Homo sapiens: one gene and its partner. The protein of the gene in region 1 interacts with the protein of each later gene in a pairwise test. Each region holds a gene or a part of one and is shown in the gene's direction. Other genes may lie near its edges.

Evidence for each region. Proteins that work in one complex are often made in the same cells at the same time.
Region 2: the proteins of COPS3 (region 1) and COPS7A interact in binary tests that used the Homo sapiens proteins (3 or more experiments, as listed by UniProt).

Annotation. Positions count from the first base shown.
Region 1 is NC_000017.11:17,274,595-17,278,343, reverse strand, and holds part of COPS3 (COP9 signalosome complex subunit 3), read left to right. Parts: intron 1-2,160; exon of another isoform or gene 2,161-2,179; coding exon 2,180-2,309; intron 2,310-3,749. UniProt on the Homo sapiens protein: Component of the COP9 signalosome complex (CSN), a complex involved in various cellular and developmental processes.
Region 2 is NC_000012.12:6,726,979-6,730,727, forward strand, and holds part of COPS7A (COP9 signalosome complex subunit 7a), read left to right. Parts: intron 1-947; coding exon 948-1,023; intron 1,024-1,244; coding exon 1,245-1,333; intron 1,334-2,268; coding exon 2,269-2,471; intron 2,472-3,423; coding exon 3,424-3,529; intron 3,530-3,690; coding exon 3,691-3,749.

The DNA of each region.
Region 1 (3,749 bases):
AGGAAAAGATTATGCAGTTGCTCTGTAGAAATAGAGAAGTTGGAAACTTGAGGTTAATGCCCATGGACTTAAATATATCCTCACTGTTACCAGAAAGACAGAGTGTGACCATGGTATCTGTCATGACAGTAATTGTCAAAATTGATGGGTCTACTTAAAGGTACCAATTCAGGCCTAATTTTTTTTTTCCCCCGAAACGGAGTCTTGCTCTGTTGCCCAGGCTGGAGTACAGTGGCGCAATCTCAGCTCACTGCAGCCTCCATCTCCCGGGTTCAAGGATTGTCCCAGGTTAAAGGATTCTCCCACCTCAGCCTCCCGAGTAGCTGGGATTACAGGTGTGTGCCACCACACCCAGCTAATTTTTGTATTTTTAGTGGAGACAGGGTTTCACCATGTTGGCCAGCCTGGTCTTGAACTCCTGACCTCGAGATATCTGCCCACCTTATCCTCCCAAAGTGCTGGGATTACAGGTGTGAGCCAGCCTGGTCTTGAACTCCTGACCTCGAGAGATCTGCCCACCTTATCCTCCCAAAGTGCTGGGATTACAGGTGTGAGCCACAGCACCCGGCTGAGGCCTAATTATTAATAGATTCTGTACCTTAGTTGTTAAAATGTAGCATTGCAGGCTGAGTGTGGTGGCTCATGCCTCTAATCCCAGCACTTTGGGAGGCCAAGGTGGGAGGATTGCTTGAGCCCAGGAGTTAGAGACCAGACTGGGCAACATAGTGAGACCCCTGTCTCTGCAAAAAACTTAAAAAATAAGATGGGCATGGTGACGTACACCTGTAGTTCCAGCTACTCGGGAGGCTAAGGTGGGAGGATTGCTTGAGCCCAGGAGATGGAGGCTGCGTTGAGCTGTGATCACACCACTGCACTGCAGCCTGAGCGACAGAATGAGACCCTGTCTCAAAAAACAAAACAAAACAAACATAGTATTGCAGTATAGGGGAAAAATAGATCAATTAGGAGATTAATTCAACAAGTAGCTGCTTGATGAACTGCTAAGCAGGTGATGTATTCTAGAGCTGGAGAAAGGGACAATCCCTCCACCTGAGTTTACTGAAATACCTAACCACTACAGTCCCATGCGAGGCAGAGAGGGCAGATACCCAGCTTAGCCATGGGGAAGGGAGCTGAGATGAGGGTCTAGAGACGCCACAAGTTGATTGCTGAATGCTGGATGAGGCTCAGTCAGGTAGCAGAGGATGTGGGGGAGAAGGACAGAGAACAGCATGTGTAGAAGCATAAAGAGGAGAGAAGATAGAATGTTGATTTTCTGAGCTTGCTGTGATCGAAGAGTAGGTGTGTGAGGGGAAGTAGCAGGAGATAAGGCTGGAAAGGTAGCAGGGACCAGTTATTGAAGGGCCTTAGTTCAGGCTGAGGCGTTTGCACTTCTTAAAGTCATTGGAATAACTTGATTGAATGCACAGTTTATAGAACAGACAGTACTAATATGGAGTGCGGGTTGGAGGAGAGAAAGATCACAGTAGGCAGACCATTTAGAAGATTTATGATGTAGGCTGGGCGCGGTGGATCATGAGGTCAGGAGTTCAAGACCAGCCTGGCCAAGAAGGTGAAACCCCCGTCTCTACTAAAAATACAAAAAAATTAGCCAGGTGCAGTGGCAGGCGCCTGTAATCCCAGCTATTTGGGAGGCTGAGGCAGGAGAATTGCTTGAACTTGGAGGGCGGAGGTTGTAGTGAACCGAGATTGCGCCACTGCACTCCAGCCTGGGCGACACAGTGAAACTCCATCTTAAAAAAAAAAAAAAGATGTAGTCCAGACAAAAAATGATGAGGATCTGAATTAGGGCAGAGAGGGGAGAGAGAAAGAAATGGAGCTGAGAGACTTTGGAAGTAAAACTAAATCATTTGGATGCAGAGAGCTGTTAATAGTAACGTGCATTTCTGGCTTGGGAGACTAGAAAACAGAATAGAGAAAAAGGTGAAACATTCAGGGTCAGAGAGAAGTGGGAGGTCCAGTGTAATCTCTAATTCGTTTTGAGACCACGGACAGGTTGTTTCACTCCTCTGGTCCTTCTGGATCCTCATCCGAAGTGAAGGAGATTAAGAATCAATTTTGGGAACTTCAGGCTCTGAAGTACAAAGTTGTGGTTAGAGTTCCATCAGTTTGGTTAGTGCTGTAGCTGAAATGCAATAGTGTTGTTCCTGTTTTCCAGGGCAAATGACACAGCTTTGTGAACTGATCAACAAGAGTGGGGAACTCCTTGCGAAGAACTTATCCCATCTGGACACTGTGCTCGGGGCTCTGGATGTACAAGAACACTCCTTGGGCGTCCTTGCTGTTTTGTAAGGAGCATCTTCTTTTATAGTTCTGTGCTTGTTAAAATGGAACACTGTGCACTTCCTGGCTTTATTTTTATTTATTTATTTATATTTTTTGAGATGGAGTTTCGCTCTGTCACCCAGGCTGGAGTGCAGTGGCACATTCTTGGCACACTGCAAGCTCCGCCTCCCGGGTTCACTCCATTCTCTTGCCTCAGCCTCTTGAGTAGCTGGGACTACAGGCACTCGCCACCCGCCCCAGCTAATTTTTGTATTTTTAGTAGAGACAGGGTTTCACCATGTTAGCCAGGATGATCTCGATCTCCTGACCTCTTGGTCCGCCCACCTTGGCCTCCCAAAATGCTGGGATTACAGGCGTGAGCCACCACGCCCAGCCCTGGCTTTATTTTTATTTATTTATTTATTTTTTGGTGTAGAAAGTAAACCATTGTAAATAACATTGAGCTCTTTTGCAAAACTAAAGTTATGGCAGTTACAGTTTATTGATTCCAGCTAATAATTGCTTGTTATATTTTGTTCAACTTTATCATTTTTAAAAACTCTTTTATGTATCCGGGCATAAAGAGGTTGCAGTGAGCCAAGGTCGCGCCACTGTACTCTAGCCTGGGTGACAGAGCGAGACTGTCTCAAAAAAATAAAATCAGTTGTTGCAGCTGGGCACAGTGGCTCCCGCCTCTAATCCCAACATTTTGGGAGGCAGAGGCAGGTGGATCACTTGGGGCCAGGAGCTCCAGACCTGCCTGGCCAACTGGTGAAACCCTGTCTCTACTAATAAAAAAACTAGCCGGGTGTGTTGGCGCATGCCTGTAGTCCCAGCTACTCAGGTGGCTGAGGCATGAGAATTGCTTGAGCCTGGAAGGCAGAGGTTGCAGTGAGCCAAGATTGCACCACTGCACTCCAGCCTGGGCGACAGAGGGAGACTCTCTCAAAAAAAAAAAAAAAATCAGTTGTTGCTTTTCCTGCTTTGAGAACATACTAAGGGGGCCAAGAGTGAGAGCTATGGGCTGGCTGGAGGTGGGCAGCAGCTTAAGTTAAAGATGCTGCCACCAGCTGTGTGGTCTATCTGAGAATAACACTGACAGAACAACTGATAGGCAGGACAAGAGGAGTAGAGTGGTGAGAAGAGGGAGGACTCAGGTGATCCTTCCCAAGTAACTCAGACTGCCATGAGAAACACTCCAAGGAGGCACTGGTGATAGGTTTTAGGGGAGAAATCATGTAAACTTAGCACTATTAAGGCATTGGTTGTAAGTAAATTTCAAATTCTTTAAAAAAAAAAAAAAGCACGATTGAAATGTAATTTCAAGAAAAATTAGGCCAGACACAGTGGCTTACATCTGTAATCCCGGCACTTTGGGAGGCCAAGGCGGGTGGATCACAAGTTCAGGAGTTCAAGACCAGCCTGGCCAACATAGTGAGACCCTGTCTCTACTAAAAATACAA
Region 2 (3,749 bases), on another chromosome or scaffold:
GGGTCTATAATCTTGTTGAAAGATATTCTTAGGTAGCAACCTTCTGCAAGGATTGATTGATTAAGTGCCAGAATGAAGCTGAGCACAGTGGCTCACGCCTATAATCCCAGCACTTTGGGAGGCCAAGGCAGGTGGATCACCTGAGGTCAGGAGTTCGAGACCAGCCTGGCCAATGTGGCGAAACCCTGTTTCTACTAAAAATACAAAAATTAGCCTGGTGTGGTGGTGCACGCCTGTAATCCCACCTGCTTGGGAGGCTGAGGCAGGAGAATTGCCTGAACCTGGGAGGCGGAGGTTGCAGTGAGCCAAGATCGCGCCACTGCACTCCAGCCTGGGTAACAGAGGGAGACTCTGTCTCAAAAAAAAAAAAAAAAAAAAGTGCCAGAATGAGTGATCCATGATAGGAGGAGAGGAAATCTGGGTGGACTGGGCTGGGTGATGCAAGACAGTGTCCTGGTCAGGTGTGTCTGAAGCAGAGACCATAAGTTTAGATGTCTTTCTAGGCTGTGCAGCTGTCAGAGATGAGTGAGGCTGAGGCAGGAGTCTGGTGAATTGGGGAGTACTGGAGACTGTCTAGACATATTCCAATTTAGAAACATCAAACACTCTGAGGGCAGGCAACACAATTTGCAGTGTCTGGTGTGTATGTCTGTTTGACTCTGAAAACTGAATGTCTTCAACTCTGAATTTAGGGTAGGAATTGGATGACGTATGGAGCAAGAGGGCATTGTGGTTTGGGAGAATAGTGTAAACAAAAGCCTGAAGGTGGAAATGAGCCCTTCCTATGTGAAGAGTGATCAGAGAGGCAGAGAACTCCTTTTGGTGAGCCAGGAGAGTTAACATTGGCCGGGAAAGATGGGGCCAAAAAGTGGAGTTCCAAACAGGGTAAGGCTGGGAGGGTGGAGAGGGAAGACTTCCCGTCACCTCCTTTTTCCTCATTCTCGCAGCTGGCTGAGAGTGACTTTGCCTCTACCTTCCGGCTGCTCACAGTGTTTGCTTATGGGACATACGCTGACTACTTAGGTAACCAGAGGGGTTGGTGCTCTGGAGTAATGGAGATGGGAGAAGGGCAATTTCTGGAGGGACTCAGAAGAAATTCCTGGGATATCCCACTTAGATCCCTGGATGCATAGGGTCAGGGTCAAGACCTGAATTGGCATTGAAAGTGGGAGGGAAGGGAAGGAGGCTAGGGCTTCCCAGAAAACTGAAATCAGGATTCCTTACACTTTGTCGTTTTTCCCTAGCTGAAGCCCGGAATCTTCCTCCACTAACAGAGGCTCAGAAGAATAAGCTTCGACACCTCTCAGTTGTCACCCTGGCTGCTAAAGTAAAGGTGAGTGGCAGTCCCCCAGTCCTACGGTCTAGAGCATCCTTTTGTATGTCCTTGGGAGTCCACACTAGGACAGCCCTTGTCTAGACCGTGGCTGCTTCCTGCCCTCCCCTCCTCCAAGGTCTGTATATAAACTCCATTAGCAACTGTTTAGGCTGATAGTATTCTTAGTTTTCTGTGTTGTTTTTATTTTTTAATCAACTTAAGTTCTAAATAAACATCTTCTGTGGTTTTGGTCAAAATAGCAACTAGGATGTTGTTCAGGTGTCGTTCAACAATACCTTCTTCCCCACTGCTGGAAACAGGGCTCTCCTGATGAAGTGCTAGGCTTCTCTTTGTTAGGATAAAACATATATATTCTAGAAGTATCTCTGTATTCCTGTTAGGCTGTTTTTTGTCTAATATCACCACCCACCTCCCCAGCCTGCCCAGTCTGCAACCTCGCAATAGTTACTTGACTCTCAGTTGTCCTTGGGATTTAATTTAAACCAGGCTCTCTATTGAGAGATACCTCCAAAGGAATGCCCGTTGCAGGTAGGCAGAGTATAAATGATAAACAGTAACTCCACACCTCTCCCACTTCTGCTTACTCCCCTGTATCAAGCTGATCTTGACTAAGGACTGGGTGATACCCTGAGCTGTGGCTAAAGGAGTGACACCCAGGCAGATGTCATTTTCTCCTTCTGTGGTGTGTCAGGGGTGAGGGTGTTAGGGGAGCATTTTGTATTTTATTTAAGATTGTCCTTCTAATGATGCTGTTTTTGAAGTGGGAATACTTTTATTTATTTTGCTTTAGAACCAGCCTCTTAGAGGAAGTGATTTAGGAATGGGAGTGGAGGGCAGGTGGGCTAGGGCAGGGGGAAAAGGAGGGAAGATTTTTGGAAGCCCTTCTCTACTACGGAGCGTCACAAATCCTGGCCTGATCTCCGCGGCCCCAGTGTATCCCATATGCAGTGTTGCTGGAGGCTCTTGCCCTGCGTAATGTGCGGCAGCTGGAAGACCTTGTGATTGAGGCTGTGTATGCTGACGTGCTTCGTGGCTCCCTGGACCAGCGCAACCAGCGGCTCGAGGTTGACTACAGCATCGGGCGGGACATCCAGCGCCAGGACCTCAGTGCCATTGCCCGAACCCTGCAGGAATGGTGAGAACCGTATCCTGGCACTGTCCCCTTCTCACCCTGAGAAAGAGAAAGGCGCTTCAGGGTGAGAGAGGGCAGGAGCTGGGCTGGTCCGCAGAGGTGGAACCCAAGAGGATGAAGGGAAATGAGTTCATCCCTCCAAAGGCTTCTGGGGAATGCAGGAGTAGGGGAGGCCCTGGGAGGCGGCAGAAGTCAGTGTCCTTGATATAGTAGTTGGGGGAGGAAAAGGGAGTGGTATACTTAAGGGGATCCTAACCAGCAAGGTCGGTCGCCTGTCTTAGGCTAGACTCTGTCGATTGATCTGTAACTACCATTATCCACAGGCCATGACCCTTTTCCTCTTTTTTATTTTCTTTGTGTCCCCATCTAACTTCAGGGTTTCTGTATTCATTAAGTCACCTCTTTTTCTCTTTGGCATCTCCTACCCTATTTTGTTTTCAGTTCCTACTCCCATCTTGCTCATCACTCCAGGCGCTTCCTTATCCCTCTCTGACCACACCGAGTGTCCATCCCACTGCTAGGAGTGTTATCACAGGTGGTTTCTAGGTGCCCTGGTGAGGGTTCCCAACTCAGACTCAAAATGCCAGAAGCTGTGTTCTGGCTCTGTTGCTCAGTTTGGAGTGCAGTGGCACCATCTTGACTCACTGCAGCCTCCAACTTCCAGGGCTCAAGCCACCCTCCACCTCAGTCTCTTGAGTAGCACGGGACTACAGGCTCGTGTCACCACATCCAGCTAGTTTTTGTATTTTTTGTAGAGACGGATTTTTGCCATATCGCTCAGGCTGGTCTTGAACTCCTGAGCTTAAGCAATTCGCCCATCTTGGCCTCCCAAAATGCAGGGATTATGGGGGTGAGCTACTGCGCCCTGCCTCTAGGGTTCTTTTTGAGTCAGTTTTCTGTGAGTCTGTGATCGCAGCCCTTGTCTGCTGACACTTCTCTCCCCTGACTCCTGCAGGTGTGTGGGCTGTGAGGTCGTGCTGTCAGGCATTGAGGAGCAGGTGAGCCGTGCCAACCAACACAAGGAGCAGCAGCTGGGCCTGAAGCAGCAGATTGAGAGTGAGGTGAGCAGTCAGGGGAGCAGGCAGACCCAAACTCCTCCAGCCTGGGCGACTTGTCCTTTGCAGAGAGAATTTGGACAGTGGCTGTAGCAGACAACCAGATGAGCAGGGGCTGGAAGGTTCTGGAACCTTCCTTGCTATCCCCATTCCTTTCATCCTGGTAGGTTGCCAACCTTAAAAAAACCATTAAAGTTACGACGGCAGCAGCAGCCGCAGCCACATC